Linked DNA regions of Homo sapiens. The protein of the gene in region 2 interacts with the protein of the main gene of each other region in a pairwise test. Each region holds a gene or a part of one and is shown on either strand. Other genes may lie near its edges. The genes, in order: TRIB3, UBTD2 and MVP.

Evidence for each region.
Region 1: the proteins of UBTD2 (region 2) and TRIB3 interact in binary tests that used the Homo sapiens proteins (3 or more experiments, as listed by UniProt).
Region 3: the proteins of UBTD2 (region 2) and MVP interact in binary tests that used the Homo sapiens proteins (3 or more experiments, as listed by UniProt).

The regions. Positions count from the first base shown.
Region 1 is NC_000020.11:388,610-400,070, forward strand, and holds the end of TRIB3 (tribbles homolog 3), read left to right. Parts: intron 1-2,677; coding exon 2,678-2,970; intron 2,971-7,588; coding exon 7,589-8,081; 3' UTR 8,082-8,950; downstream 8,951-11,461. UniProt on the Homo sapiens protein: Inactive protein kinase which acts as a regulator of the integrated stress response (ISR), a process for adaptation to various stress. Inhibits the transcriptional activity of DDIT3/CHOP and is involved in DDIT3/CHOP-dependent cell death during ER stress.
Region 2 is NC_000005.10:172,278,057-172,290,420, forward strand, and holds the start of UBTD2 (ubiquitin domain-containing protein 2), read right to left. Parts: upstream 5,709-12,364; 5' UTR 5,610-5,708; coding exon 5,540-5,609; exon of another isoform or gene 5,536-5,539; intron 1-5,535.
Region 3 is NC_000016.10:29,842,506-29,851,026, forward strand, and holds the end of MVP (major vault protein), read left to right. Parts: intron 1-1,987; coding exon 1,988-2,374; intron 2,375-3,357; coding exon 3,358-3,474; intron 3,475-3,652; coding exon 3,653-3,779; intron 3,780-4,691; coding exon 4,692-4,880; intron 4,881-5,256; coding exon 5,257-5,484; 3' UTR 5,485-5,516; downstream 5,517-8,521. UniProt on the Homo sapiens protein: Required for normal vault structure. Vaults are multi-subunit structures that may act as scaffolds for proteins involved in signal transduction. Vaults may also play a role in nucleo-cytoplasmic transport.

The DNA.
Region 1 (11,461 bases), on a different chromosome or scaffold from region 2:
AGGCAGGGGGAACAGCTGTTCAAAGGCCTAGAAAAGTGAGGGGATAGCACTTTAGAGAATGAAAAGGACTTCTCTGTGGCCAGAGTGGAGAGGATGTGCAGAAAGGGGCAGGAGATGAAGGTTGGCAGCAGCTGGTCATGAAGGTGTTAACAAGGGGCCTCCACTGGGCTGTGCGGAGCTACTGAAGATGTTTGCACAAGAGAAGGGTAGGGCATGGTAGACATCAAAACTCCTGGGACCTCGGAGGTGATCGAGCCTAACCTGGGGCCATTTTACAGATAGGAAGACTGAGATGAAGACAGGAGAAGGGCCATGCGTGAAGTCACATAGCACTGGGCCTGGCTCCTGGGGTAAACTAAGGGGTAGAAAAGTCTGAGGATTCCTGGCAGAAACCAGGAAATGGACAGGGTCAAGGCCCCTGAGGGTCAGCCCATGCAGGACACTGACAAGTGACAGTCCAAGAAGACAGAGATGAGAATAAAAAGTGTAACAATAGGTATTCACTGTGCACCAGGTACTATGATGATTGCTTAGTGTGCACAATCTCTTTTAATCTTGACACAACCAATGAGGTGGTTTCTATCATTGTGCCCCTTTTATAGATAGAGGACACTGAGACTCAGAAAGCCATGGTTACTTGCCACATGACAGAGCCAGGTGGTATCAGAGCTGGGATTGGGCCCAGGAGGCTGAGCCCAGAGAGTCCTGTGCCCGTGCTAGGATAAGCGTTTCACACAATCAGGGCAGGCTGCCCTGGCAGGCAAGCATAAGGAAGATAAGGGGGACCTGGAAACCCAAGGGAGAGTAGCGGGGGCCTGGGTCCCTTGGGAATGCACAGAGAAGCAGAAGGACTTAAGCCTCCTCCTGGGGCAGCAGCAGAGCTTTGCTCTGTTGACGGAGATGCAGTGAACAGCGGGGCAGATCCAGACAGGGTCCAGCCCCTAGCTTCACCTGGCCTCTTGTGCACAGATCTCCAGCGCCCTTACCAGGTGCCCTAAGGAGCCCAGAACTCTGGGTCCCCTTCCTGCAGCATCACAGGCTCTTTTCCACTCCCGCTGGGGAGGTGAGTCCATGATAAGAGGAATAACCCAAGCAGGCTCAGGAGAGAAGCGCCATGCGTTCACAGGGCCCTGATTCTCAAGAAACATTTGGGAAAATCCACTGGAACATACTCACCCCTATGCCAATGTGCACCATGGGTGCTGAATGGTCATTTCCACACTTCCTCAGCTTTTCTGGTCAGTGTGTAGAAAGATCAAAATCTTGTCTTTGTAAATGATCAACTTATTCATTAATTCAACACAACTTCATTGAGCACCCGTATTTGCCATGTACCATGCTGTGGTTAAAAAACAAAGTTCTGTTCTCATCAAGCTGACGTTCTAGTGGGAGATACAGACACTAAACAAGCGAATAAGTAAAATACGTGTCAGGTGGCCGGGCGCGGTGGCTCACACCTGTAATCCCAGCACTTTGGGAGGCCGAGGTAGGCAGATCACCTGAAGTCAGGAGTTCGAGACTATCCTGGCCAACATGGTGAAACCTTGTTTCTATTAAAAATACAAAAAATTAGCCGGGCATGGTGGCAGGGGCCTGTAATCCCAGCTACTCGAGAGGCTGAGGCAGGAGAATCTCTTGAACCTGGGAGGTGGAGGTTGCAGTGAGCCGAGATCACACCACTGCACTCCAGCCTGGGCAACAAGAGCAAAACTCCGTCTCAAAAAAACAAAAAACAAACAGGAAAACCCTTATTCCAGCATCTTTCTTGGTTCCTTTGCAATGCTTATCAGCATTTGTCAATATTTGGTTTCTGGGCATGTTTGCATGGCCTCCCAGTGGGCACCGGAGAGCAGAGCCCATGGCTGTCAGTCTAGCTGGACATGTGGCTGGCCCGTGCAGGCCCAGGGCCAGCATACTGAATGAATGAAAGCGTGGGTGGGCAAAGAGGACGGGAGCTGTGACGGTGATGAGCATCAGGTGCCTTCTGCATCATCCGCCCTTCCGGATTCCTCCTGCTTTGTGGGTTATTTTTCTGTTTGGGTGACCTGTTACTTTTCAGTTATCCGATGTTTGAGGCCATATAGCGTAGCAGTTAAGAGCACAGACAAAAGGCCGGGTGCAGTGGCTCACACCTGTAATCCCAGCCCTTTGGAAGGCTGAGGCGGGAGGATCACCTGAGGTCAGGAGTTCGAGACCAGCTTAGCCAACATGATGAAACCCCATCTCTACTAAAAATACAAAAATTAGCTAGGTGCGGTGGCACATGCCTGTAATCCCAGCTACACTGGGGGCTGAAGCGGGAGAATCACTTGAATCCAGGAGGCGGAGTTTGCAGTGAGCTGAGATTGCGCCAGTGTGCTCCAGCCTGGGTGACAGAGCGAGACTCCGTCTCAAAAAAAAAAAAAAAAAAAAAAAGCACAGACAGTGGAGTGCATACGTGCAAATCTCAGCCGTGCTGTTTGCTGGCTGTGTGGCCTCTCAGCTTCGTTAACCGTAAAATGGAGCAAGTCATCCTACCTTATAGGACCATGGTCAGGGCTGAGTGACTCGGTCAGTGAAGCGCTTGGTGCGATGCCTAGCACATGGTAGTGTCTAATAGGTCAGCTGTGACTGTTTGCAATGCCAGCCTCAGCTCCCGGGAGTCCCCAGCTGTGCTAACACCATGCTCTGCCCACAGGTGTACCCCGTCCAGGAAGCCCTGGCCGTGCTGGAGCCCTATGCGCGGCTGCCCCCGCACAAGCATGTGGCTCGGCCCACTGAGGTCCTGGCTGGTACCCAGCTCCTCTACGCCTTTTTCACTCGGACCCATGGGGACATGCACAGCCTGGTGCGAAGCCGCCACCGTATCCCTGAGCCTGAGGCTGCCGTGCTCTTCCGCCAGATGGCCACCGCCCTGGCGCACTGTCACCAGCACGGTCTGGTCCTGCGTGATCTCAAGCTGTGTCGCTTTGTCTTCGCTGACCGTGAGAGGTGAGTGTGGTCTCAGAGACCCCAGCCACAGACACACCCAGGGGGTGGGCCATGATGGAGAGAAACCGAGGCCCAGGAAGGCAAGGTAACTTAGGCAAGAAGTGGGAGAAACTGAAGTAACCAGCAGCCCCTGTTTAGTTCCCTGAGAAGAGTTGACTCAGGCCAGGTGCAGTGGCTCACGCCTTTAATCCCAGCACTTTGGGAGGCCGAGGTGGGTGAATCACTTGAAGTCAGGAGTTCGAGACCAGCCTGGCCAACATGGTGAAACTCCGTCTCTACTAAAAATACAAAAATTAGCCTAGTGTGGTGGCGCACACCTGTAATCCCAGCTACTCTGAAGGCTGAGGCAGGAGAACTGCTTGAACCTGGGAGGCGGAAGTTGCAGTGAGCCAAGATCACGCCACTGCACTCCAGCCTCGGCAACAGAGTGAGATTCCATCTCAAAAAAAAAAAAAAGAGTTGACTCAGTCCTCTTGGGAGCCCCTTGGGATTCTGGGATGGAGCACTGAGATGTGAAAGTCATAGTAGCCGACAGTGACGAAAGCATCGCCACATTATCTAACGTGGTCTTCCATCCTTACAAACACGAGGCAGGTACTGTTATTATCCCCATATGATCAAGGAAACTGAGGCCCAGAGAGCTCAAGTAACTTGCCCAAGATCCCATAGCAGAATAAATGGTAGAGCTGGGATTTGAACCTAGATCTGACTCCAGAGCCTGGGTCTTAATTCAATCTGAGCTTGAGAGGCAGGGGCCTGGCTGGGCTTACCAACTGACTTTGGGTGACCTAGTGTCTCTGAGCCTCAGTTTCTCCGTTGGTAAGGAAAAGGGCTGGATTGTTAGGGTGTTTTCAGGATTCCAAGACCACAGCCAAAATAGGGTCTGAGGTTCCCCACACGGGAACGTTTTCTGTGAAACTGAGAATTAGCACTTTTTGGTTAAAAGAATCTTCCTTCTCTAGGTTGGGATGCTAAGAATTTTTTTTTTTTTAATTGAGACAGAGTCTCACTCTGTCACCCAGGCTGGAATGCAATGGCGCGATCTTGGCTCACTGCAACCTCTGCTGCCTGGGTTCAAGTGATACGCCTGCCTCAGCCTCCCGAATAGCTGGGACTACAGGCATGCGCCACCATGCCTGGCTCATTTTTTCTATGTTTAGTAGAAACGGGGTTTTGCCATGTTGGCCAGGCTGGTCTTGAACTCTTGACCTTAGGTGATCCGCCTGCCTCGGCCTCCCAAAGTGCTGGGATTACAGGTGTGAGGTACTGCACCCAGCCTAGACGCTAAGAAAAATTTTTAAAAGATAATTCTGGGGAGAAGGGCAGAGAGACTCGCCTCCTGTTCCCTCTCCAGATTCCTGGGGGCAGTCAAGATGTGTCAGGGAGTGCACTAAGCTGCCAGTTACACAGGAGTTTTCTGTGGAGAAAGGAGTGTGACCCCATGGCATTTTAAAAAACTTTTTATCTTGAAATAATTTTAGACTTTTAGAAAACCTACAAAAATAGTTCAAAGAGTTTCTGCATATCCTTTAACCAGTGCTCTCCAATGTTAACACCTGACGTAGCTATGGTACAATTACCCAAACTATTAACTAAGCCACAGATTGATTCCCACTTCCCGAGTTTCCCACTAACACCCCTTGCTGTGCAGGATCCAGTGAGGATCCCAATTTAGTCATCAGTGGTTTCCTTGGTCTCTTCCAATCTGAGACAGTTCCTCAGTCTTTCCCTGTCTTTGAAGACCCATGACCTTGACACTTTTTTTTTTTTGAGACAGGGTCTCACTCTGTCACCCAGGCTGGAGTGCAGTGGTGTGATCACAGCTCACTGCAGCCTCAACCTCCCGGGCTCAAGTGATCCTCCCACCTCAGCCTCCTGAGTAGTTGGTTCTACAGGTGTGTGCCACCCCACCTGGCTAATTGAGATGGGGTCTTGCTATGTTGCCCAGGCTGGTCTCAGACTCCTGAGCTCAAGCAATCTGCCTGCCTCAGCCTCCCAAAATCCTGGGATTATAGGCGTGAGCCACTGCTCCTGGCCATAACCTTGAGACTTTTGAAGAGTACTGATCAGTTACTTTGTATGTCCCTCAATTTGGATTTGATTGATGTTTTCTCACAGTTAGATTGCAGTTATGTATTTTTGGCAAGAACAACACAGAATCGATAGGCCCCTCTCCACATCATATCAAGAGATACTTGAGCTGATAGTCATTCCTATGTCGTGACCTTGATCACTTGGTTAGGGCAGGACCTACCAGGTTTCTCTACTGTAAGGTCCTAATTTACCCTTTGTAATTGACAAATACCTTGGGGGAGGTAAGCTAGGCATATAAATATCCTGTTTTTCCTCAACTTTCACCCACTAATTTTAGCAGCCATCCATCTTGCCTATAGCAGTTATTATTGTGGTGCTTGCCTAAGTCTAATTTTCTTTTTCTTTTTTTTCTTTCTTTCTTTTTTTTTTTTTTTTGAGACAGAGTCTCGCTCTGTTGCCCAGGTTGGAGTGCAGTGGCACGATCTCGGCTCACTGCAACCTCCACCTCCCGGGTTCAAGTGATTCTCGTGCCTCAGCCTCTTGAGCAGCTGGGATTACAGGCACACACCACCACACTTGGCTAATTTTTGTATTTTTAGTAGAGATGGGGTTTTGCCATGTTGGCCAGGCTGGTCTCGAAATCCGCCTGCCTTGGCCTCCCAAAGTGCTGGGATTATAGGCATGGGCCGCTGCGCCCAGCCCCCAAGGCTGATTTTCTGTTAATATTTCCTTCTACATTTTATATTAGAACAAGCATGCCTTTTTTAAAGAAGTAACATTTATAATGATGTTTAAGCTAGTACATAACTTCAAACACATTTTAGGCTTAGGGTAGATACAACTACCCCGGACCTCCTGGAGGAGACAGCGTGCTTCCTGCTCTTTTCAAGAAGTCACTTGATGGCCCACACCTGTTATCCCAGTGCTTCGGGAAGCCAAAGTAGGAGGACTGCTTGAGCCCAGGAGTTCGAGGCCAGCCTAGGCAACACAGAAAACCCCATCTGTACAAAAAATTTATAAAAATTAGCCAGGTGTGGTGATGCACACCTGTGATCCCAGCTACTTGGGAGGCTGAGGCAGGAGGATTGCTTGAGCCCAGAAGTTTGAGGCTGCAGTGAACTAGGATTGCACCACTGCACTCCAGCCTGGGTGGCAGAGTGAGACCCTATCTCTAAAGAAAAAAAAGAAAAAAAAAAAGAAAAATCACATGAGAGTCATTGGTAGAAGAGGGACCGTGAGTTAGATAGACCTGTGTTTAAATCCTGGGTTCTGCTTCTTACCTGCTTTTTGGCCCTGAGCAAATGACTTCACCTGCCTGAGCCTTTGTTTCTTCATCTGTAAAATGGGCTAATAATGCTGACACCCCTTGTCCCCCAATACTGTGATTCATAGGATTGGTCAGTATTTGTGAAATGCCACTGGACACCCAGGAAGTAATGCCATAAAGAAGAAACTAATAGCAGTGGTAATAGAATGATTACTATTAAAGTCATCTTTGAGTGCTCAGTGGAAGTTGTTTAAAGTAGAAATTGCAAATGGCAGGACACACTTTTTTTTTTTTTTTGAGACAGGGTCTCACTCTGTCACCCAGGCCGGAGTGCAGTGGCGCGATCTCAGCTCACTGCAACCGCCACCTCCTGGGCTCAAGTCATATCCTTCTGCCTCAGCCTCCCAAGTAGCTGGGACTACAGGTGCGAATCACCATGCCTGCTAATTTTCGTATTTTTTGTAGAGATAGGTTTTTACCGTGTTGCCCAGGCTGGTCTTGAACTCCTGAACTCAAGTGATCCCCCTACCTCGGCCTCCCAAAGTGCTAGGATTACCGGCATGAGCCACCGCGCCCAGCCTTACACACTTTTTTTTTTGCCCTGCTTACCTGTTTGTGTTTTTTATATAAACTGGTTGCCAATATTTTTTAAATGGGGACCTTTTCATTAAAATACAATTCCTGGCTTCTCTTGGGGAAAACAATGGGAATGTGGGGCCATCTTGGGAACTGCGAGGGTGGGTCACAGCACTGGCTCTGAGTATCTGCCAGCCAGCGTTCCCATCCCAGGCCCATGCTCTACAGCTGTAAAATGGTGTCTTCCTTGCAGGCTGTAGCCTAGATAGAATGAGGTGAGCCAGGTAATGAGCTGGGTCAAGGGCCAGGAACACAGCAGGCACTTGGTAAACCCTAGAATGCGTTGTGTACCCTTTTTAGGTAGCGCTTGTGCTGAGATGTCAGGCACACTTCCTGTTTCTCTCATCTTATTACCTGCCTGGACCCTAAGTTTGTAGCTGGTTTAAGAGAGGCTTAACCCTCTCAGCCCCATCAGCCCCCTCCCCAAGGGACTCTGTTGAAAAATGTATTCCTTTCAGAATTTTAGTTTAAATTTAATTGCTCTGTGGCCTTAAATGACTTAACCTCTCTGAGCCTGGGCTTGGGTATCTGTAAAACAGGATCAGACATCACAGGACTGGCTTGTGTCTGTCAAAGGCCAGCAGGCACTTGGAAAGTGGGTGCCACAAGGGTGATAGCATGGGGTGGTGGCATGGGGGTTCTGGGTAGGACCTGACCCTTCTGTTTCTCCCCATGTCCCAGGAAGAAGCTGGTGCTGGAGAACCTGGAGGACTCCTGCGTGCTGACTGGGCCAGATGATTCCCTGTGGGACAAGCACGCGTGCCCAGCCTACGTGGGACCTGAGATACTCAGCTCACGGGCCTCATACTCGGGCAAGGCAGCCGATGTCTGGAGCCTGGGCGTGGCGCTCTTCACCATGCTGGCCGGCCACTACCCCTTCCAGGACTCGGAGCCTGTCCTGCTCTTCGGCAAGATCCGCCGCGGGGCCTACGCCTTGCCTGCAGGCCTCTCGGCCCCTGCCCGCTGTCTGGTTCGCTGCCTCCTTCGTCGGGAGCCAGCTGAACGGCTCACAGCCACAGGCATCCTCCTGCACCCCTGGCTGCGACAGGACCCGATGCCCTTAGCCCCAACCCGATCCCATCTCTGGGAGGCTGCCCAGGTGGTCCCTGATGGACTGGGGCTGGACGAAGCCAGGGAAGAGGAGGGAGACAGAGAAGTGGTTCTGTATGGCTAGGACCACCCTACTACACGCTCAGCTGCCAACAGTGGATTGAGTTTGGGGGTAGCTCCAAGCCTTCTCCTGCCTCTGAACTGAGCCAAACCTTCAGTGCCTTCCAGAAGGGAGAAAGGCAGAAGCCTGTGTGGAGTGTGCTGTGTACACATCTGCTTTGTTCCACACACATGCAGTTCCTGCTTGGGTGCTTATCAGGTGCCAAGCCCTGTTCTCGGTGCTGGGAGTACAGCAGTGAGCAAAGGAGACAATATTCCCTGCTCACAGAGATGACAAACTGGCATCCTTGAGCTGACAACACTTTTCCATGACCATAGGTCACTGTCTACACTGGGTACACTTTGTACCAGTGTCGGCCTCCACTGATGCTGGTGCTCAGGCACCTCTGTCCAAGGACAATCCCTTTCACAAACAAACCAGCTGCCTTTGTATCTTGTACCTTTTCAGAGAAAGGGAGGTATCCCTGTGCCAAAGGCTCCAGGCCTCTCCCCTGCAACTCAGGACCCAAGCCCAGCTCACTCTGGGAACTGTGTTCCCAGCATCTCTGTCCTCTTGATTAAGAGATTCTCCTTCCAGGCCTAAGCCTGGGATTTGGGCCAGAGATAAGAATCCAAACTATGAGGCTAGTTCTTGTCTAACTCAAGACTGTTCTGGAATGAGGGTCCAGGCCTGTCAACCATGGGGCTTCTGACCTGAGCACCAAGGTTGAGGGACAGGATTAGGCAGGGTCTGTCCTGTGGCCACCTGGAAAGTCCCAGGTGGGACTCTTCTGGGGACACTTGGGGTCCACAATCCCAGGTCCATACTCTAGGTTTTGGATACCATGAGTATGTATGTTTACCTGTGCCTAATAAAGGAGAATTATGAAATAATTTTATTTTTCTCTGCAATTTCTTCCATCCTTTCCAACGATCTCTTACCAGTTTTTCCTGCCTTCAAAACTGGCCCCCATGGTGAAAGGCCGTAGAGTTGTGTCTTAACCTGGGCTGAGTGGTTTGTGAGAACAGATTACCTGGAGCCCAGTGGGTCTTCCTGCACTCCTTCTGTTTCTTCTGGCAGCAGCAGTGTCTCTATTAGGGTACTTTCTGAGTCAAAATGGCTTCAACAAGATGGAAATATGTTTCACACAAAACAAGAAGTCAGCAGATAGGGTGGGCTTCAGTGCTGGTCCATTCAACTCCCAAAGCTGCGCACAGGGACCCCGGCTCTCCAGGCTCCTTCTGTCTCTTGGCTGTATTGTCTCGAGACTGCTGGCCCAATGGCTACAGCAGGTGTCACATTAAAGAGGTCCATGACCAGAGGAAGAAGCCAGGGGTCATTGTAGTACCTGAGAACTCAGAACTCTGGAGTCAGGCTGCCTGGAATTAAATCCTGGCTCCAGCACTCAATAGCTGTTTGACCCTTGGCAAGTTTCTTAACCACTCTATGCCTCAGATTCTTCATCTGTGAAATGGGGGACAATGATAGTACCTAACTTATGAGAACTAAATGACTTATTTTGTATAAAGCAATTAGAACAAGCAGCGCCTGGCATAATAAGCCCACAATAAAAGTTACTCCCGGCTGGGCACGGTGGCTCACGCCTGTAATCCCAGCACTTTGGGAGGCCGAGGTGGGCAGATCACAAGGTCAGGAGTTCAAGACCAACCTGACCAACATGGTGAAACCCCGTCTCTACTAAAAATACAAAAATTTTTAGTAGAGACGGGGCGTGGTGGTGCGTGCCTGTAGTCCCAGCTACTCGGGAGGCTGAGGCAGGAGAATTGCTTGAACCCGGGAGGTGGACGTTGCAGTGAGCCAAGATCCCGCCACTGCACTCAGCCTGGGCAAGAGAGCGAGACTCCGTCTCGAAAAAAAAAAAAATGGTGCTCCCACATTTCTTTCTTGGGATGGAGGAAGCTTTCCCAGAAGCGCTCCTGACCGACTTTCCCACACATCTCACTGGTCAGAACTGCATCACTTGCCGTTTCTGACCAATCACCAGCTTACATTCATGGGGCACGTGCTTACACTAACCATGGCACTCCTCGAGCTAAGTGGAGCTCATGCGTCATATGGAGGGGTAGTGACTCCTGAGCAAAACCAGGTTCAAAGAGGGAGGGGATCGTAGGGAAAAGAATGTGCGGAAGTGCGGAGGCCCAGCCAACAGCCTGCTAACTGCAGATACTCGAGAGCGGCCACCCTAGATCATCTGACCCAGGCTGGCCCACGCTAGAATTGCCCAGTGACCCGCAAGGTCATGAGCTAATTGAGCTAAATAAAATCATTGTGTTTTTTTGTTTGTTTGTTTTGTTTTTGTTGTTTTGTTTTTTGAGACAGAGTCTCACTCTGTCACCCAGGCTGGAGTGCAGTGGTGCGATCTTGGCTCACTGCAACCTCTGCCTCCCGGGTTTTCAAACGATTCTTCTGCTTCTGCCTCAGCCTCCCGAGTAGCTGGGATTACAGGCACGCGCCACTACACCCGGCTAATTTTTATATTTTTAGTAGAGACGGGGGTTTCGCCATGTTGGCCAGGCTGGTCTCCAACTCCTGACCTCAGGTGATAGGCCCACCTCGGCCACCCAAAGTGCTGGTATTACAGGCGTGAGCCGCCGCACCCGGCCAATCATTGTGGTTTTAAGTCACTAAGTTTGAGGCTATTTTGTTTTACAGCAAAAGCTAACTGATGCAGACAGGGACAAGTCAGTCTCATCTCTGTGCACCCAGCATTGCCCAGAACAGGGCCTAGTTGTGTCTAGGGTCTCATGGGGCAGCCCCTGACCTCTATCTTGCCCCTCCCAGCTTCCAACAGACCCTGTCCCAGCTCCCTCCAAGCTGAGTGTTGGCCTGATACCTACCAGTGGAGCGAGGGGAACACGAGGACTGCCAAGGGCAGGTACCGTGCCAACCCTTCACTCCATTCCACAAAGAGACTCATTTACTCCTCATGACAATCCAGTGAGGCAGATGTTCCTGTCACTTTACAGATAAGACAAATGAGCTTTAGAGAGAGCAGAAGACTCATCCAAGACCTCACAACAGAGAAAAAGACTCCTCTGGTTTTTGCCTTGGAGCAGGAACTTTTGACAAGGCTGCGCAGATGCAGCCACATGAAAACCGCCCATTAAAAATGTAATATCGGCCCGGAGCGGGGGCTCACGCCTGTAATCCCAGCACTTTGGGAGGCCGAGGCAGGCAGATCACTTGAGGTCAGGAGTTGAAGACCAGCCTGGCCAACATGGTGAAACCCCGTCTCTACTAAAAATACAAAAAATAGCCAGGCGTGGTGGCATGGGCCTGTAATCCCAGCTACTCGGGAGGCTGAGGCAGGAGAATCACTTGAACCCAGGAGGCAGAGATTGCAGTGAGTCAAGATTGCACCACTGCACTCCAGCCTGAGCGAC
Region 2 (12,364 bases):
GGAACCATCATACACTGCTGGTAAGAATAAGTGGTAGAAAATAATCTGGTAGTTTCTCAAAAAGGTAAACACAGAATTACCATATGACCCATTAATTCCACTCCTATCCAGCTGAAAGAACTGGAAACAGAGATTGAAAACAGACACTTGTACACCAAAGTTCAGAGCTGCATCATTCACACCAAAATCTGGAAGCAGCCCAAATGTCCAACAGATGAATGGATAAAAAAAAAAGTGGTATATACATGGGCAGGAGTTGGAGACCAGCCTGGCCAACATGGTGAAACCCCGTCTCTACTAAAAATACAAAAAATTAGCCAGGCGTGGTGGTGCGTACCTATAATCCCAGCTACTCGGAGGGCTGAGACAGGAGAATCGCTTGAACCTGGGAGGTAGAGGTTGCAGCGAGCTGAGATCACACCATTGCATTCCAGCCTAGGCAGAGTGAGACTCTGCCTCAGGGGAAAAAAAAAAAAAAGCGGTATATACATACAATGGAATATTATTTAGCCATAAAAAGGATAGAGTACAAATACATGCTACAACAGGATGAACACGGGAGACTTTATGGTAAGTAAATAAACCACAAACAAAAGGGCAAATATTTTATGATTCTACATATAGGACCACACAACGTTGTGAATATAATCAATGCCACTGAATTACACATTTAAAAATGGTTGAGACGGTAATTGTTATATGTTTTGCCACAATTTTATTTTTATTTATTTATTTTGAGACCGAGTCTCACTCTGTCACCCAGGCTGGAGTGCAATGGCGTGATCCTGGCTCACTGCAACCTCTGCCTCCCATGTTCAAGCGATTCTCCTGCCTCAGCCTCCTGAATAGCTGGGATTACAGGCACTCGCCACCACCACACCCGGCTAATTTTTGTATTTTCAGTAGAGATGGGGTTTCTCCATGTTGGCCAGGCTGGTCTTGAACTCCTGACCTCAAGTGCTCTACCTGTCTTGGCCTCCCAATGTGGTGCGAATGCAGGCGTAAGCCACTGGGCCTGGCCAATTTTGTCACAATTTAAAAAAAGTAAACTACGGAAAAACAGAAAACTAGCATTCTTTATAGCAGCCCTGGGTTTAAGCTCTGACTGCCAGTTATAAGCTATGTGATGATGAGCAAGTTATTAAAGGTTGGTGCAAAAGTAATTGCGGTTTTTGCAATTAAAAGTAATGGCAAAGAACAAAACTATTTTTGCACTAACGTAATAACTGCTCTTGGCTTCAATCTTTATCTATGAAACAGAGATACTATCCACCTCATAAGGTTGTTAGGACCTGTTACATAATAAATACTGGATAAATGGTAGATGCTATTCAAAAACCATTGTTACTCACTGAGTAGGTGTCTGTAAGGCTGCTATAAATGGGTATCTGAAAGAACTCCATGATGTTCTCAAGACATTCTGGAATAGAGACTAAAGGAATGAATGTCCAGCATTCAGTTATTCTCTGTAAACCTGGAAACTTGTGACCACCACGGTCAGTTCTCTTAGGATATCACTGAATGCACAAAATAAATGACACACTCAGAAAGTGAGAAGTTACTTTGTACATCACTATACTTTCATTAAAGAGGTGAAGAAAGAAAAGGTTGTTGGTTGTCTTCAATTAATACAATTTTATTGGATTTTCTGCCCACATATTTATTTCAAAAAATCATAAAGGATTTAATTCCTTAGCAAATGTCATGGCTAAAGGCTTGTCTAGAGGTCCTAAATGCCAACTCCAGCATCACAATGTCATTCTAGTACGGCGGAGAACCATACAGAATGTCTGAAAATGTCAAAACAGGCTGGGCGAGGTGGCTCACGTGAAGTCAGGAGTTCAAGACCAGCCTGACCAACACGGTGAAACCCCATCTCCACTAAAAATATGAAATTAGCCAGGCACGGTGGCGCACGCCGGTAATGCCAGCTACTTGGGAGGCTGAGGCAGGAGAACTGCTTGAACCCGGGAGGGCGGAGTTTGCAGTGAGCTGAGATCGTGCCATTGCATTCCAGCCTGGGCAACAAGAGTGAAACGACGTCTCAAAAAAAAAAAAGTCAAAACAATGGGAAATTCTAGGAGCATGGAAGCTTAGAACTGTTAAATAATCTTACATAACTTCTATGACATACCTGTCTTGATTAAAAGTAGGCATTAAAAAAAAAAGGCTGGGCACAGTCGCTCACACCTGTAATCCCAACACTTTGGGAAGCACAGGTGGGCGGATTACTTAAAGGTCAGGAGTTCAAGACCAGCCAGGCCAACCTGGTGAAACCCCGTCTCTACTAAAAATACCAACAAATTAGCTGGGCATGGTGGTGGGCACCCGTAATCCCAGCTACTCTGGAGGCTAAGGTAGGAGAATCTCTTGAACCTGGGAGGCAGAGGCTGCAGTGAGCAGAGATCGTGCCACTGTACCGCAGCCTGGGCGACAGAGCAAGACTCCATCTCAAAAAAAAAAAAAAAAAAAACCAGCCTAACTACTCATGTGGCTGAGGCCAGAGGACTGCCTGAGCCCAAGAGTTCAAGGCTGCAGTAATCTATGATCATGCCACAGTACTTCAGCCTGGGTGACAGAGCAAGATACTATCTCAATAACAAAATATAAAAATAAAAGTTTTTTTATTTGAAAAAAGCCTAAGTAGCTGGAGCTCAAGAACTAAATTCTAGGCAAGGTATATGCCAAAGGAAAATACAACAATTAATCCCAAAACAATAGATAATGCAAAGCTTATAATGTGAATTAAGCCACTTCCATATTCTACAGTCTCTTATAAAAATCTCCCAAATTCCTTCAAAGAATACACCTAATAAGGAAGGTTTTATTGATATACACATAATTACTTGCATACATAAGAGATGGATTCAGAGGGAAAAAGGAAAGTATAGTATTTCAAATGGTCAAAAGATTTTTTTAAAATCTTTTTCTTACTAAGGCTGGCTGATATTTAGAAAGGGTCAAGCTATTCTAAAATGGTGATGTTTGCACAACACTGTGAATGTAATTATTTTGTTTATTTTTTTAAAGACAGAGTCTCACTATGTTGCCTGGGCTGGTCTCCAACTCCTGGGGCTCAAGCAATCCTCTCGCCTCATCATCCCAAAGTGCTGGGATTACAGGCATGAGCCACCCCGCCTGGTTGGTGAATGTAATTAAATCTGTCATGGAAAGTTTAAATCCGTTGTAAGAAGCATGTGAAGACTCCATGTTGATAAAACAACTTTCATAACCCAACACATTCAGATTAAAAACACGGCAAAACCCACCTCTACTAAAAATTTTTTAAAAATTAGCCGGGTGCGGTGGCATGCACCTCGTGGTCCCAGTTACTTGGGAGGCTGAGGTAGAAGGATCACTTGTACCTGGGAGGTCAAGGCTGCAGTGAGCTGTGATCTGGCACTGCACTCCAGCTTGGGCGATAAAGCAAGAACCTGTCTCGAGAAACCAAACCAAGCCCTCCACACATCCCCCAAACCTAACTCACTACCACAGTATGTTTGAAAAGCTAGGGATCTGTGCCAACACCCTTAGGAAAAAGTCTTTCCCTTCCCAACAATCTACTTATTAAGCAATAATTTTTTTTATATGTTAACCTGCAACACACCTGAGTTAATTTCACTAAACCACAATTAACTCTTAATTATCATGACAATAATGGAGAATAAAAGCGTCCATAATCAAATTCCAGAAATAATCCTTTTAGTACAAGAGCCTCTTCCCTGACCCCAGTTACATCAGGGCCCATGTCCTCTCTCCAAAAGAAAATAAAGACGTTTGGTGGTTAATGTTCCTTTTTCTAAACTTCATGTACAGCAGAGCTTACGGTCCAGAGAACTCAGTCCTCAAAGAAACTGATACTATAGCTATCTAACTGGATACCACCGGTAATAAATTACCCAAAGCTAAGATTTCACGCTTTTTAAAGCCCATATTAATAATGCCTGTCTGGTCATAAGTCACACTACCAAAAGGCTTAAATAAATTAATCCACATACATTACGGAGAAGAGCAAAATGCTTATGACAATATTAAAATGAGTGTGAAAAAAATTTAATTAAAACTAAACACTAGCGATAACAAATACTAATATATTTCAGAATCATTAATGATCAACACAATTAGAGGAAGATTCATTTTGATCCTTCAATTTCACCTTAACCCAAGGCTGTTTTAAATCGTGCCCTTTTTATCTTCCTGCTTTGTTGTCACTGAGGATCTCAATATGCCAGTAATAATGCTACGACATAAAATACACTATAAAGTAGCATTTTCATGGACTTTTTCAAGACAACTTCCACTGAGTTCTCAAGTTATTTACCCAGGATTTAGTCATACAGGATACCCACAGATTTTAATAAAGTGGCATGGCTAACCATCATGGAATTCAGGAAATCCATTAGCCAAAAAACTTAGGTGTACATGGTTTGTGAAGAGAGCTTAAGTGACAGGGCAAGCAACTGGTCTAAATGTTAGTATGCTACGAAAAAGTTGTAAACCCTCCCATACCCAAACAATTTAAAAATTTACAGACATGCACATTTTAAGGCAGCTAACATTAGGTCACAAATCAAACCAACGCTGTCATCTTTGCCTAAAGGCTGTTTATCACTAAAATATTCTACAGAATGGACGTAACCAAAGGTCACTTAAATAAAGATAGAACTAATTTTATTATTATACTGCCATACTACAACTACTACTGATTGAATTAAAATACCTATCCTCAGCACGCTTTTACTATAAAGTAGGAGTGCGTTCCCGTGTTAGAAAACTTTTAAAGTACTGATCTTACTGGGTGGGGTAAGTCAGGGTCCAACTGCACTTGTACTTTTATCCTACATATTTTCCTTCTACGTAAGACAGATGGGAATGTGATTAGCCCACCCCGACAGCACACCGGCCTAACACCCCCAAGCTCTAGCTAGGAGCCACGTTTTACCCGGGAAGACCGTTTCCCCACCCCTCCTTAATACAATGCCTGCGGCCACTGGAGACTCCTCCAGCCGAGCTCCAGAAACTCGCAGGTTTAAATGGCCAATCTGGAACCAACCGGGGCAGCTGTCATCTGAAACTCAGGAAAGCTGAGACCAGCCAACTCCACAGAACAAGGAAGGGTGCGGAAAGATGTGGCGGGGCCCGTCGGAGGGAACGCATCAAGCTCCCTCCCCCCGCCATCAATTCGCTTTTCTGCAACCCCGGCGCCGCCATCCTGATCCTCAATAATTAAACGGCCTGGAGAGGGAGTGAGGTGGCCAGAAGGGCAGCTTCGGGTCCGACTTCCCCGAGCCGAGCGGGGCGGTCGGCGAGGCCAAGGGCTACGTCCCCGGCGCTCAGAGGACTTTTCTTCAGGGCTGGGGCGGGAAGGGGCGACCCCCGCGGCTGGCAGGACAGCCGGAAGCGGAGCGCGGGGAATGACGTGGAAGAGGGGATGACAAAGGGGCGCGGGGGCCCGGCGCGGCCCGCGGGGGTCGGGACAGGTGGCCGGGCCTGGCCGGGAACAATGGGGGGCCGAGGCTGCCCCCTGGCGCTCACCTACCTCCGGTGCCCTCCGAGTTCTCGTTGAGGCTGCCCGAGGAGTCGTGCTGGGCGCCCACACACCCGCCCATGGGGGCCCCCGGCGCCTCGTCCGCCACCTCCGGACGCTCGTCCGGGCCCGCCGCCGCCGCCGCTGCAGCCTCCTCCGGCGCCACCGCCGAGCTCCGGACAGGCGCGCCGCTCCGCTCGCCCGCCGCGGCCCAGCCTCCGCCCCCCTCGCCGCTCCACCCACCGCCTTGGCTCGGCCCCTTCCTCCGCGCCCACTTCTACCTCAACCCCCGGGCCGCCCGCCCGGCAGGCCTGGCCCGCGCGCCGCCCTCGCCTTCGGCTCAGCCCCGCCAGGCCAGGGCTGGCCCATCCCGGGCGGGCCGCAGCGCCCGCCTCGCCCCCTCACAGCCCCGCACACCCGAGTCCAGGCGAGCCCCGCGCCGGCGCCTCGCGTCCGCCAGGACCCATCGGCCCCCGGCCCGCGGCGCCGCCCTCCGCACCCACGGCCTGGGCTCGGCCCGGCCCGCCCGGAATCGCCGGAGAAGGGCGGGGCCACCGGAGGCCGCGCTCTGATTGGCTGCGGGCGGGGCTGCGAGCGGAGCGGGGCGAGGGTGAGGCGGGGGAGGGGACGCAGGGGGCTAGGTGGGGGGAGGACTGCAGGCGGGGGGAGGACTGGAGGCGAGGGGAGGAGGAGAGAGGGAGGACGGGAAGAAGAAAGGAGAGGGAAGAAGGGAGGGAAAGCAGGAAAAAGCCGAACAAAAGTGAGAAAAGAGGAGTGGGAAGGGGCGAAATCGAGTTCCTGGCTCCTCGGCCGTCGGCTCCTTCTTGCTGGTGGAAGCGGGTCGCACGGGGGAACCGAGAAGTAGTCGTGGAAGACTCGCAGGCGGGGACGGGGCGGTTTCCCAAATAACGGGGGCTCGGGGGAGAGTGTCCTGGCCGAACGTTGAGGTCCCAGCGCCCTTTGAATTTGTATGGCGCTCCGTGGGTTGGTACCCCGAATCTGGGCTTCCTCTTGCCTGCCCACCCCCGTCTTCCCTAAAATCATGGGGCCCCATTATTAGGGGTGGAGGCAGTGGTTGTGGCAAACCAAACTGAGATTAGAGGCGAGGCGTCCTGATGGAACGCCTGGAAAGAAGAGATAAACGCTGACCTTAGTTCAGGGGGCGTGGGTTTCTTTCATTTTCACGGGATTAATGATTCAAACAATACTACTTATCAAGATCCTGCCTTTGGGTATCTTAAATCGTCCTTAGGCCAAAGTGAAGTGTAAATGAGTGAAACACCCTGCCTTTTCGAATCTAGAATTTGGGACATTGACCACGCCCAACATTCTTGGCGGTTACTTTTCCAATCTCAGCCAAATTGTTAATGGTCCCTTTAGAATTGTGCTTCGTGCTATGATGCCTTAAAATTGTTATCATCCTGCTTGGGACTTTCTAAAGCTTATTTCTGCCTAAGAAGCTGTTTTAACTATCTGCTCCATTTTTATATCAGACTTTCTTTTTTTAACATCCTGGGTCAGCTTTTGCTTAGCACGAAAAAAAATTTTTTAAGTTGAAATACCTAAGAAAGAGATGCTCTGCAGCTTGGGATTTGCATTTAAATATATTCTCATACATTGCTGGTGGGAGTGTAAATTGGTTCAATCTTTTTTGCAAAGCAATTTGGCAATGCAGATCAAGAGCCTTAAAAATGTTCATATCCTTTGACTCGGGATTATTCCACATCTGGAAATCTAGCTCACAGAAATAGATCAAGCTATTATACAAAGATTTAGATCTCTGTATTCATTTGATAAAAAGACAGTAGACAAGCAAAACCTACACTTAGGTTAAAACACAGAAATGTCGTGAGATATAGAAATCTGCTATATTAAACTCATCCTGAAGAATTAGTATTGTCCTCAGTTGTGGTCCTGAACATTCCAAAAAGAGCTTATGCCATCGATGTTATTATGAGTTTTCAGAGGTTGCTCTGACATCAGGGGCTGTGTCACAAAGCCTTCTGTCTGATCATTTTCAACTAACTATACACGTTGGCAGACACATCACTTCATCACTTCCCTGAAGAAGAGAAGCTGCATGCCGAATATTTGCAAAGAGATTGCTTTGTCCTGAATTTCACTCTAGAAATTGCAGAAACCAAGACTTCCACGATGTCTATTAAACAGATGGTAGGCACCCAAATGATGAGGGCTCTCCGATGAGCACTGAGGAGTTGGCACTAGGAAGAGAGAGCAATCTCGGGGAGAGATTCTCAGCAATAGATGTTCTCCACCCTGCCTTTATCTTAGAGACACATTTCCCAGGAGGCAGAGTAGTGTCGCAGTCAGGGCCCCAGCTTGGCGATTAACTTCCTGGATTGGAATCTGGCTTTCATCGTGTACTAGCTATATGGTCTGAAGTTTCTGCCAGACATGGTGGCTCACGCCTGTGATCCCAGCACCTTGGGAGGCTGAGGTGGGAAGCTCACTTGAGCCCAGCTGTTTCAGACCAGCCTGAGCAACATAGGGAGACCCTGTCTCTACGAAAAAATTTTAAAAATTAGCGGGGCGTGGTGGTGAGCGCCTGTAGTCCCAGCTACTCAGGGGGCTGAGGTGGGAGAATTACCTGAATCCAGAGAGGTGGAGGCTACAGTAAGCTGTGATCGCGCCACTGCACTCCAGTGTGGGTGACAGAGCGAGACCCTGTCTCAAAAAAAGAAAAAAGAAAGTTTGGCCGGGCACGGTGGTTCATGCCTGTAATCCTAGCACTCTGGGAGGCCGAGGCGGGCGGATCACGAGGTCAGGAGTTGGAGGCCAGCCTGGCCAATATGGTGAAATCCCATCTCTATTAAAAATACAAAAATTAGGCTGGGCGTGGTGCCTCATGCCTGTAATCCCAGCATTTTGGGAGGCTGAGGCAGGCGGATCACAAGGTCAGGAGATCGAGACCATCCTGGCTAACATGGTGAAACCCCGTCTCTACTAAAAATACAAAAAATTAGCCGGGCGTGGTGGCAGGCGCCTGTAGTCCCAGCTACTCAGGAGGCTGAGGCAGGAGAATGGCGTGAACCCGGAAGGCGGAGCTTGTAGTGAGCAGAGATCGCGCCACTGCACTCCAGCCTGGGCAACAGAGCGAGACTCCATCTCAAAAAAAAAAAAAAAAAAAAAAAAATTAGCCAGGCGTGGTGGCTCGCACCTGTAGTCCCAGCTACTTGGGAGTTTGAGGCAGAAGAATAGCTTGAACCCGGAGGGCGGAGGTTGTAGTGAGCTGAGATCTTGCCACTGCACTCCAACCTGGGCGATAGAGTGAGACTCCATCTAAAAAAAAAAAAAAAAAAAAGTTTATGTGGAGTTCAGTTTCCTCACCTGTAAAATTGGGCCAAAAATAATGCTCCAAACTCTGTGGGGCTTTTCATCAACTCTTTATTTCATGTCTAGCATCATCTATCTAAATTTACTGCAGGCAGGCACAGTGGCTTCGGCCTATAATCCCAACACTTTGGGAGGCTGAGGCGGGCAGACCGCCTGTGGTCAGGAGTTTGAGACCAGGTTGACCAACGTGGTGAAACCCCGTTTCTACTAAAAATTCAAAAATTAGCTGGGCATGGTGGCGTGTGCCTGTAATCCCAGCTACTCGGAAGGCTGAGGCAGGAGAATCACTTGAACCTGGGAGGCAGAGGTTGCAGTGAGCCGAGATAGCACCACTGCACTTTAGCCTGGGCCACAGAGCAAGACTGACTCCAAAAAAAAAAAACTGACTGCATAGCACTTTCTATCAAAACAATTCCTTCTTTGTGTGTGTGTGTGTGTGTGTGCACATGTGCTTTTCTACTGTTTTATAGTATCTTTATTAAGATATTCATATACCATGTATTTCACCAGTTTATTTTTAATTGACAAATAACTGTATTATGAGGTCACAGTGTGATGTTTAGATACATGTTTACAATGTGGAATGACTAGGCTAATTAACAAATCCATCACCTCACGTATTTGTCTTTTTTTTTTTTGAGACGTAGTCTTGTTGTTGCACAGGCTGGAGTGCAGTGGCACAATCTGAGCTCACTGCCACCTCTGCCTCCTGGGTTCAAGCGATTCTCCTGCCTCAGCCTCCCAAGTTACTGGGATTACAGGCGCCTGCCACCACGCCCAGCTAATTTTTGTAATTTTAGTAGAAATGGGGTTTCGCCATGTTGGCCAGGCTAGTCTCAAATTGCTGACCTCGTGATCTGCCCACCTTCGCCTCCCAAAGTGCTGGGATTACAGGCGTGAGCCACCGTGCCCCGAGCCACTGCGCCCCGTCCACGTGCTTCTCTTTTTTGTGGTGAAAACATTTAAGATCTACTCTGTTAACGATTCGGAAGTATACAGTGCATTATTATAGTCACCATTCTGTGCAGTAGGTCACTAATGCCTATTCCACCTAACTGAAACTTTCTACTCTGGAATCAATATCTCCCTTTTCCCCATCCACCCCCACCCCTTCACCAATTTACATTGTACAAGTCAATGGTTTTTAGTATATTTACTAAATATCAATAGTCAATGAATTTTAAAACATTTTTATCACCCTAAAAAGAAACCCTGTACCTATTAGCAGTCACTCCCCATTTCATTCTATCCCCTACCTCACCCCAGCCCTAGGCGACCACAAACCTTTCTCTTTTTTTTTTTTTTGAGACGGAGTCTCCCTCTGTCACCCAGGCTAGAGTGCACTGGCACAATCTCAGCTCTCTGCAACCTCGCAGTTGAAGTGATTCTCCCACCTCGGCCTCCCGAGCAGCTGGGACTACAGGTGTGCACCACCATGCCCAGCTAATTTTTTGTATTTTTAGTAGAGATGGGGTTTCACCATGTTACTCAACCTTCCAGGCTCAAGCAATCCTCCCACCTCCCCCCGCCTCCCCCCCGCCAACCCGCCACCCGCCGCCAACACACACAATACCCAGTAGCTGAGACTAACTTCATTCCTCTTTATGGACAATATTCCATTGTATGGATGTACCACATTTTGTTTATCCTTTCATCAGTTGGTGGTTATTTGGATTGTTTCCATTTTTTGGGTATTGGAATAAAGCTGCTATGAACATTCCTGTACAAGCTTTTGTGTAGCCATATGTTTTTAATTGTCTTGGATTTATACCTAGGAATGGAATTGCTTGGTCATATGGTAACCCTGTTTAACTTTCTGAAAAATTGGCAAATTGTTTCCAAAGTGGTTTTGACTTGATTTTCCTAATGGCTAATAATGTTGAGCATCTTTTTATGTACTTATAGGCCACTTGTATATCTATTTTGGAAAAATGTCTACTCAAGATACTTGCTCATTTTTTTTTTTTTTTGAGATGAAGTCTCGCTCTGTAGCCCAGGCTGGAGTGCAGTGGCATGATCTTGGCTCATTGAAACCTCTGCCTCCCAGGTTTAAGTGATCCTCCCGCCTCAGCCTCCTGAGTGGCTGGGATTACGGATGCCTACCACCATGACTGGCTAATTTTTGTATTTTTAGTAGACACGGAGTTTTGCCATGTTGGCCAGGCTGGTCTCGAACTCCTGACCTCAAGTGATCTGGCCGCCTTGGCCTCCCAAAGTGCTGGGATTACAGGTGTGAACCACTACACCCAGCCTATTGCAGGTTTTTTACTTTTGTGTGTGTGTGTGTGTGTGTGTGAGACGGAGTCTTGCTCTGTCACCTAGGGTGGAGTGCAGTGACGTGATTTTGGCTCACTGCAACCTCTGTCTCCTGAATTCAAGTGATTCTCCTACCTCAGCCTCCCAAGTAGCTGGGATACCAGGCACCTGCCACCACGCCTGGCTAATTTTTTCTCTTTTTTTTTTTTAGATGAAGTATCACTCTGTTGCCCAACCTAGAGTGCAGTGGTGCAATCATAGCTCACTGCAGCCTTGAACTCCTGGCTCAAGCAATCCTCCCACTTCAGTCTACCAAGTAGCTGGGTCTACAGGTGCACACCACCATGCCCAGCTAACTTAAAAAATTTCTTTTTGGGCTGGGCACGGTGGCTCACACCTGTAATCCCAGCAATTTGGGAGGCCGAGGTGGGTGGGATCACCTGAGGTCAGGAGTTCAAGACCAGCCTGGCCAACATGGTGAAACTCTGTCTCTACTAAAAATACAAAATTAGCTGGACGTGGTGGCACATGCCTGTAATCCCAGCTACTTGGGAGGCTGAGGCAGGAGAATCGCTTGAATCCGGAAGGCAGAGGTTGTGGTGAGCCAACATCTCGCCATTGTACTCCAGCCTGGGCAACAAGAGCGAAACTCCATCTCAAAAAAAAAAATTCTTTTTGTAGAGATAGGGTCTTGTTATGTTGCCTAGGCTGATCTCGAACGACTGAGATCAAGTGATCCTCCTGCCTCAGCCTCCCAAAGTGCCGGGGTTACAGGTGTGAGCCACCACACCTGGCTTAACTTTCTTTTCTTTTTTTTTGTTTTAATTTTGGAGACGGGATCTTGCTCTGTTGCCCAGGCTGGAGTGCAATGGCACAATCTTGGCTCACGGCAGCCTTAACCTTCCAGGCTCAAATGATCTTCTCACCTCAGCCTTTCTAGTAGCTGGGACTACAGCTGCATGCCACCATGCCTGGCTAATTTTCTTTATATTTTGTAGAGACAGGGTCTCACTATGCTGCCCAGGCTGGTCTTAAACTCTGGCCTCAAGTGATCCTCCCGCCTCAGCCTCCCAAAGTGTTGGAATTACAAGCGTGAACCAATGCTCCTTGCTTAACCCTCTTGATAGTGTCTTTTGAAGCACAAAAGGTAGTTTCCTTTTTTTGTTTGTTTTTTTTTTTTTTGGAGATGGGGGTCTCACTATGTTACCCAGGCTAGACTCTGACTCC
Region 3 (8,521 bases), on a different chromosome or scaffold from region 2:
TGTTGGTCAGGCTGGTCTCGAACTCCTGACCTCAGGTGATCCGCCTGCCTCGGCTTCCCAAAGTGCTGGGATTACAGGCATGAGCCACTGCACCCGGTCAACCCTGTTTCAAAACAAAAAAAACAAACCGGGTGGCAAGCAGTGGGTGAGGGTTCCTGCTGGGTGCAGCCTAGGAACCCCAAGAAAAGGAGGGTCCTGCTCAAGTGCTGGTGCTGGGCTCCTCATGAAGGCAGGACACCTCATTCAGTGCTGAGGTCAAGAGGGAACCTAGGAGTTCACGCAAATCCAGGGAAGGCGTGGGCTCACCTCCTGGGGTCAGGACTCAGGGATCCAGTAGCAGGACACTACCCCAACTAAGCTCCCAGTGAGCGTGCAGCCAAATGCGTAACTGTCGGGCTGTTAAAAGATGCATGGGACACAGCTGGCGGGAGTGGGCAGTGCAAGGGGGCGGTGAGAACTCAAGTTCAGAAACTGACTGCCCTGGCCTGCGCCCCCGCCCTGCTGTTTGCAGCCTGTGGACCTGGGGAAGGGACAGGGTGCTTTCCTCAGTTTCCCCATCTGTAACATGAGGAAGACAGCATTTTCTCCTTCACAAGGCCATTGAAAAGATGCAATGAGTGTTAGAACAGTGCCTCTATTGGTCAGAGCTCAATAGCAGCTATTAGGATTGGGTGAGATAAGTCATGTACAGAAACAGTGTTCATGACTGGGTACTGTGGCTCACACCTGTGATCCCAGCACTTTGGGAGGCTGTGGCAGGAGGATTGCTTGAGGCCAGGAGTTTGAGACCAGGCTGGGCAACATAACAAGACTCTGTTTCAAAAAAAAAAAATTTATAAACTAGCTGGGCATGGTGGTACATGTCTATAGACCCAACTACTTGGAAGGCTGAGGTGGGAAAATTGCCTGAGCCCAGGAATTTGAGGCTGCAGCAAGCTATGATTGTGCCACCACACTCCAGCCTGGACAACAGAGACCCACAGAGACCCTGTCTCGGAGGAAGGGAGGAAGGGAGGAAGGGAGGAAGGGAGGAAGGGAGGAAGGGAGGGAGGGAGGGAGGGAGGGAGGGAGGGAGGAAGGGAGGAAGGGAGGGAGGGAGGGTCAGGCGTGGTGGCTCATGCCTGTAATCACAGCACTTTGGGAGACTGAGGCAGGCAGATCACTTGAGGTCAGGAGTTTGAGACCAGCCTGGCCAACATGGTGAATCCCTGTCTCTACTAAAAATACAAAAATTAGCCAGGCCTGGTTGTGGGCACCTGTAGTCCCAGCTTGTAGTCCCAGCTACTCAAGAGGCTGAGGCAGGAGAATCTCTTGAATCCGGGAGGCGGAGGTTGCAGTGAACCCAGATCGAGCCACTGCACTCCAGCCTGGGCGACGGAGCAAGACTGTCTCCAAAAAGAATATTCAATACTCCCAAGCATGTCCCTCACCTCTTAGCTGAGAGCAGCCAGTGCCCTGATGGCGGCAGACAGCTGCCGACATATTCCCAGGGCTGCCGACATATTCCCAGGCACTACAACATCATAGTTAAGAGCACAGGCCCCAGAAGCAGCTGCCTGGTTCAGCTTTCTGGCTTGTCACATGTTATATGGCAAGTCTTGGGCCAGCCACTTGACTTCCCTGGACCTCTACTTCCTCATCTGTAAAATGGGGGTGGTGATCATTGCCATCTCATAGGGTGGCTGAGTGGGATTAAAGGAGAACGTGTGTTAAGTTTTTAGGACCTTACCAGGCATACATTAGCATTCTCTATTGCGAGAGACCCTGCCCGGCCACACAGGATGGGTGTTGAAGTTCTTCTCGGAGAGAGTTGCTGGCTGGGCGTGATCACACATGTAGTCCCAGCACTTTGGGAGGCTGAGGTTGGGGGGTTGCCTGAGCCCAGGAGTTCAAGACCAGCCTGGGCAACATGGCAAGACCTTGTCTCTTCTAAAGAGAGATTCCTGGGTGAAAGCAGCTTCCCCATTCTGGGCCTGTTTGTTCACAGGCACTTTGAGGTGAATGACCGGAAGGACCCCCAAGAGACGGCCAAGCTCTTTTCAGTGCCAGACTTTGTAGGTGATGCCTGCAAAGCCATCGCATCCCGGGTGCGGGGGGCCGTGGCCTCTGTCACTTTCGATGACTTCCATAAGAACTCAGCCCGCATCATTCGCACTGCTGTCTTTGGCTTTGAGACCTCGGAAGCGAAGGGCCCCGATGGCATGGCCCTGCCCAGGCCCCGGGACCAGGCTGTCTTCCCCCAAAACGGGCTGGTGGTCAGCAGTGTGGACGTGCAGTCAGTGGAGCCTGTGGATCAGAGGACCCGGGACGCCCTGCAACGCAGCGTCCAGCTGGCCATCGAGATCACCACCAACTCCCAGGAAGCGGCGGCCAAGTAAGTGAGGCTGGGAGCTCGGCTGCCTATAATGCCCATGGCAGGCCACTGCTGGGAACTGGATAACCTGGCATCCCTTGTGGACTGCCTGCTGCCATCCCTACCCTCAAAGATCTATTCCCTACCCAACAGATCAGGTGACCCACTTAAAATGTGAATCAGGCTGGGCGCGGTGGCTCATGCCCGTAATCCCAGCACTGTGAGAGGCTGAGGCAGGAAGATCACTTGAAGCCAGGAGTTTGAGGCTGCAGTGAGCCATGATTGCGCCACTGCACTCCAGCCTGGGCAACAGGCCTGGGAGACTGACCCTGTCTCAAAAGAAAAAAAAAAAAAAAAGCACGTATCAGATGTGGCTCCTGCAGCCTCCCATCTTGCATGTGATAAAACCTAAACTCCTTCCTGCAGCTCCAGCCGGCCTCCCCCGATTTGCCTTCTAGCCTCCCCCTTCCATGCTCCTCGTCCCTGGAACATGTTCCAGCTGACATGTTCCAGCCCCACTGGCTTCCTCTGCTCCTTCAATGCACAGCTTGGACCCACCTGAAGGCCTTTTGCAATGGCTATTCCTGCTGCCCAGAAAGCTTCCCCCCGCCCCTGAGCTCCCTTCCAGGCAGGCTTCTCCTTCTGGCTTCAGCCCAAAGATCCCCTCCTTGGGGAACACTTTTCTTTCTCTCACAGCTGAATAGCACCCTCTTTGCCTGGTCTCTCCCACACTTGTCACTGTCTGAAATCCTCCTTGTATACTTGTTCTTTTCCCACTCAAGTGGCGTGAAAGTAGGGGGCCGCAGTCACGCCTGCATTTGTCCGGCCTAGAATGACACTGGCTTGTGGCGCGTATACCATTCTGGGTTGAGTTGCGTATTGGGTGCCTTCTAGGGGCTGGGGTCTGTCCTGGGCACCGGTTTGGTTGGTGGCCGCTGCCCTTGGCGCTCCTGTTCCTGCTCTGGCCCCATGCCAGCCTCTCACCTGCGCTCCGTCTCCTCCAGGCATGAGGCTCAGAGACTGGAGCAGGAAGCCCGCGGCCGGCTTGAGCGGCAGAAGATCCTGGACCAGTCAGAAGCCGAGAAAGCTCGCAAGGAACTTTTGGAGCTGGAGGCTCTGAGGTGGGTTGAGAACTAGAGGAGGAGACTGGCAGGGGCCGAGGGTCTTAGGACAGCAGCTGGTGTGGGCAGCAGGCCTGGGTGGGGTGTCGATGAGACAGTGCACGGCTACAGCATAAGCCAAGGCCGTGGGGGGACTGGGCTGTCTCCCGGGTCTTACCTGACTCTGCCTTCTCCCCAGCATGGCCGTGGAGAGCACCGGGACTGCCAAGGCGGAGGCCGAGTCCCGTGCGGAGGCAGCCCGGATTGAGGGAGAAGGGTCCGTGCTGCAGGCCAAGCTAAAAGCACAGGCCTTGGCCATTGAAACGGTGAGTGGGGGGAGGCATTAAGAAGAGGGTGGCCTTGAGTCCTGGAAAAGGCCCATTCCCTACAGTCCCTGAGACTGTATAGGACACCAGGTCCCCCAACATAAAGCCCTATCCAAGTACTTTGCATTTGCAAAGTCCTTTGCCTTGTAGGATTCATTGACTCCATTGCTGGAAGGTAAGGATTAGAACACCCATTTTGCAGCTGGGCGCTCATGCACTGGCCACCTTGGCACAAGTGCTGTGTATGCTTCATAGGCATTATCTTATTTAATGCTTGAAATCCCATTAAGAGGCCGGGTGCAGTGGCTCACGCCTGTAATCCTAGCACTTTGGGAGGCCGAGGCGGGTGGATCACCTGAGGTCAGGAGTTCAAGACCAGCTTGGCCAACATGGTGAAACCCCATCTCTACTGAAAATACAAAAAATTAGCTGGGTATGGTGGCATGTGTCTGTAACCCCAACTACTTGGTAGGCTGAGGCAGGAGAATTGCTTGAACCCAGGAGGTGTGGAGGCTGCGGTGAGCTGAGGTTGTGCCACTACACTCCAGCCTGGGCAACAAGAGTGAAACTCCATCTCAAAAATAAAGTAAATAAAAATAAATGTAAAAAGAGGCCTAGTGTGGTGCCTCAGGTCTCTAACCCCAGCACTTTGGAAAGCTGAGATGGGAGGATCATTTGAGGTCAGTTCGAGACCAGTTCAAGACTAGCCTGGGCAACATAGCAAGACCTCATCTCTACAAAAACAAAATTTTTTAATTGACTGGGTGTGGTGGCACATGCCTGTAGTCCCAGCTACCCAGGAGGCTGAGGCAGGAGGATCCTTTGAGCCAGGAGTTCAAGGCTGCAGTGAGTCCTGATCTGCATTCCAGCCTGGGTCAAAAAATAAAGAATGATTGATTTTTCCTCTTCCAGGAGGCTGAGCTCCAGAGGGTCCAGAAGGTCCGAGAGCTGGAACTGGTCTATGCCCGGGCCCAGCTGGAGCTGGAGGTGAGCAAGGCTCAGCAGCTGGCTGAGGTGGAGGTGAAGAAGTTCAAGCAGATGACAGAGGCCATAGGCCCCAGCACCATCAGGGACCTTGCTGTGGCTGGGCCTGAGATGCAGGTGAGAGTTGGGGAAGGTGTGTTGGTTTCAGGACCAACCTTGAAACCAGGAAGGCAGAGCCAAGGCGGAAAACACAACATCTGGAAAGATTGTGGGGAAGGGAGGGGTGAGTGACCTGACCCACGATGCAGGGACATTCACACAGTGTCACGCTGCATCAACGTCAGGCACTGTACTAGACCCAGCAGTGAGCCAGAGCTCCGGAGGAGACAGGAAATGGATGGGACGCCAGTCTGACAGGCATTTCCAAGGCAGTCAAGCAGGGTGGTCAGATGCAGGGGAGGTGACCCTTCAAACCAGCTGACTTAAGGAGGGTCACTCTGAAGTGGCCAGGGTTTGACGCCCATCTCAACTTCCTCCTGTTCTCACCCTCCAGGTAAAACTGCTCCAGTCCCTGGGCCTGAAATCAACCCTCATCACCGATGGCTCCACTCCCATCAACCTCTTCAACACAGCCTTTGGGCTGCTGGGGATGGGGCCCGAGGGTCAGCCCCTGGGCAGAAGGGTGGCCAGTGGGCCCAGCCCTGGGGAGGGGATATCCCCCCAGTCTGCTCAGGCCCCTCAAGCTCCTGGAGACAACCACGTGGTGCCTGTACTGCGCTAACTCCTGATTAATACAATGGAAGTTTCTGGGCATTTACAATTTCAACACTTTTCTCTTGTCTGACATTGGTTGGGGTTACCAGGGAGCTTAATGGTGGGGAGGGGAGGTGCCCCTGGCATCTTTTTTTTTTTTTTCGAGCTGGAGTCTTGCTCTGTCACCCAGGCTGGAGTGCAGTGGTGTGATCTCTGCTCACTGTAACCTCCACCTCCCAGGTTCAAGTGATTCTCCTGCCTCAGCCTCCTGAGTAGCTGGGATTACAGGCACGTGCCACCACGCCCAGCTAATTTTTGTATTTTTTAGTAGAGATGGGGTTTCACCATGTTGGCCAGGCTGGTCTCGAACTCCCAACCTCAGGTGATCTACCTGCCTCGGCCTCCCAAAGTGCTGGGATTACAGGTGTGAGCCACTGTGCCCGGTCAACATCTTTAGATAGTTACAGGAGACTCTTCTCCTCCATAAAGGGGAGAGGACCCCGAGGCAGGGGAAGGATGAGCTGGAAGTCACCCAGTAGGAATGTGGCCCCAAAGCCTTGTGCACTGGGCTTCCTAGAGCCCAGATAGGGGTGATGATGCCACGGGTGGGGGCATGGGGCCCACAATGGCAACATCTCACCACTGGTTCTCCAGGAGCCCAGCTGCCTGGTAGCTCTCAGCTGTTGCAGATGCAACCCAGCTTCCCATTCGGGAGGCGCCCTCCAGCGCCACCTGCTGGAGCACCCACAGCACCAGCAGACGTGTCAGGCTTGCACCCGGTGCTGTGCGCTTGTCCCTTCCCAGGTGGGGGTGTCAGGTTGGGGAGGAGGACCCTGCCTAGGGCAGTAGGAATTGGGCATCTCCTTGAGCTTCCGGTCTGGGCTGTTTGGGAGCACTGAAGGAGGAGTGCCCTTATCCCACCTTCTCCCCCACAACCAGTATGGGGTCCTCATTTGAGAGAAGGATCCAGGTGCAGTCAGCCTGGGTGCACTAGCCCTTTGGGGCCAGGAACAGTTGTAGGTGCCAGGCCTGCCCCGTCTCTGCCGAGGAAGTAAAAAGATCCCAGGGGCCGAGTGCAAGAGCTTAGGCCTGTAACCCCAGCACCTTGGGAGGCCAAGGCACAAGGATCACTTGAGACTAGGAGTTCGAGACCAGCCTGGGCAACATAGCAAGACCCCCATCTCTACCAAAAAAAAAAAAAAAAAAGCAAAAGCCAGATGTTATGGCATGCATCCGTGTTCCCAGCTACTCGGGGGGCTAAGGTGAGAGGATTGCCTAAGCCCAGAAGTTGGAGGCAGCAGTGAGCTATGATCATACCACTGCAGTCCAGCCTGGGTGACAGAGGGAGACCCTGTCTCTATAAAAAAAAACAAAACAAACAAAACCCTTAAAGCCTCCCTAAAGCCCTCATTTTCACCTTCCTGTAATATTGAGTGGAAAAAGCCCGATCCCCCCTTAAACCACCTCCCTCCCTCTCTGCCCTGCCCCTGACCGTTGCTGCAGGAGGAACACCCCACGGAGCTGACTGATCTTATTTTAAACTCATGGGAACAAATTTTGAGGGAGGTGCAGCTTCTCTGGCTGTGCTGCTCTGTCTTGTGTGCGATCCGCTTTGAGACAACCATTCACACCACCTCTCCTCTCAGCCTCCTACACCCCTGCCCACTTTCTCTCACCTCTTTGAGAAAATAGAAGCAAATTGGGTAGGAAGGCCCTTCCCAGCAACAAACCTAACAAACTGCTGGCATCTAGACTGTCCTCCCTCCTCTTCCCACCCTGGGCTCCTCCCCTTGGGCTCTAGGAGAGAGGGCTGCATTCCTTCACTGATTGCCGTCCTCTCCTGTGCTGTCAATTTTTTTTTCTTTTTTTTTTTTTTCTTGAGACTGAGTCTCGCTCTGTCACCCAGGTTGGAGTGCAGTGGCGTGATCTCAGCTCACTGCAACCTCTGCCTCCTGGATTCAAGTGATTCTCCTGCCTCAGCCTCCCGAGTTGCTGGGACTACAGTCATGCACCACCATGCCCTGCTAATTTTTGTATTTTTGGTAGACATGGGGTTTTGCCATCTTGTCCAGACTGATCATGAACCCCTGACCTCATGATCTGCCTGCCTTGGCCCCCCAAAGGGCTGGGATAACAGGTGTGAGCCACTGTACCCAGCTGATATGCCATCAATTTCTTCTCTCCTGCATCATCATCATCAGGATATAGACATGTCTACTCTGTCCATATAAAACAACTCCCTTAACCCTATGAGCCCCTCTAACTTCCACCTCTCCTTTTTCCATCACAGCCAAATTTTTCCAGAGTTCTCTGTGGTCTCACTTTCCATTCCTCATCTCTCATTATCTCTTCAAACCACTCCAGATAGGGCCAAACGTGGTGGCTCACGCCTGTAATCCCAGCACTTTGGGAGGCCGAGGTGGGTAGATCACCTGAGGTCGGGAGTTCAAGACCAGCCTGGCCGACATGGTGAAACCCTGTCTCTACTAAAAATACAAAAGTGAGCCAGGTGTGGTGGTGGGTGCCTGTAATCCCAGCTACTCGGCAGGCTGACGGAGGAGAATCGCTTGAACCTGGGAGGCAGAGGTTGTAGTGAGCGAGATTGCGCCATTGTACTCCAGCCTGGGCAACAAAAGCAAAACTCCGACTCAAAAAAACACCCCAGTTTGCTTCTGTCTCTGCCCCTTACTTTATGGAAACTGCTTTATTCGGCATCACCAGTAATGTCCCGTTGCTAAATCCAGTAGTTGATCGGTCACTTGGCACAGTTGGCCATTCCTCCCATGCTGGGCTTTCCTGACATCACCTGTTCTAGTTTTCTTTCTCGCTTCTCTCAGTAGGTTCCCTAAGGCCCACTTCTCATGCTGACATTCTTGTCCAATCGCATGACCTCAGATGGTCTCTATACCACTGACCTCAGAATCCATTACTCCAGCTCCGACCTCACCCAAGAGCTCTGGACTCATTTCCAATCCATGCCTTGATGTCTCCACGTGGACCTCAATTGGTGATCAGGCTTTGGCTCTTGCCAATGAAATGCAAGGGGAAATGACATCACATGCCTG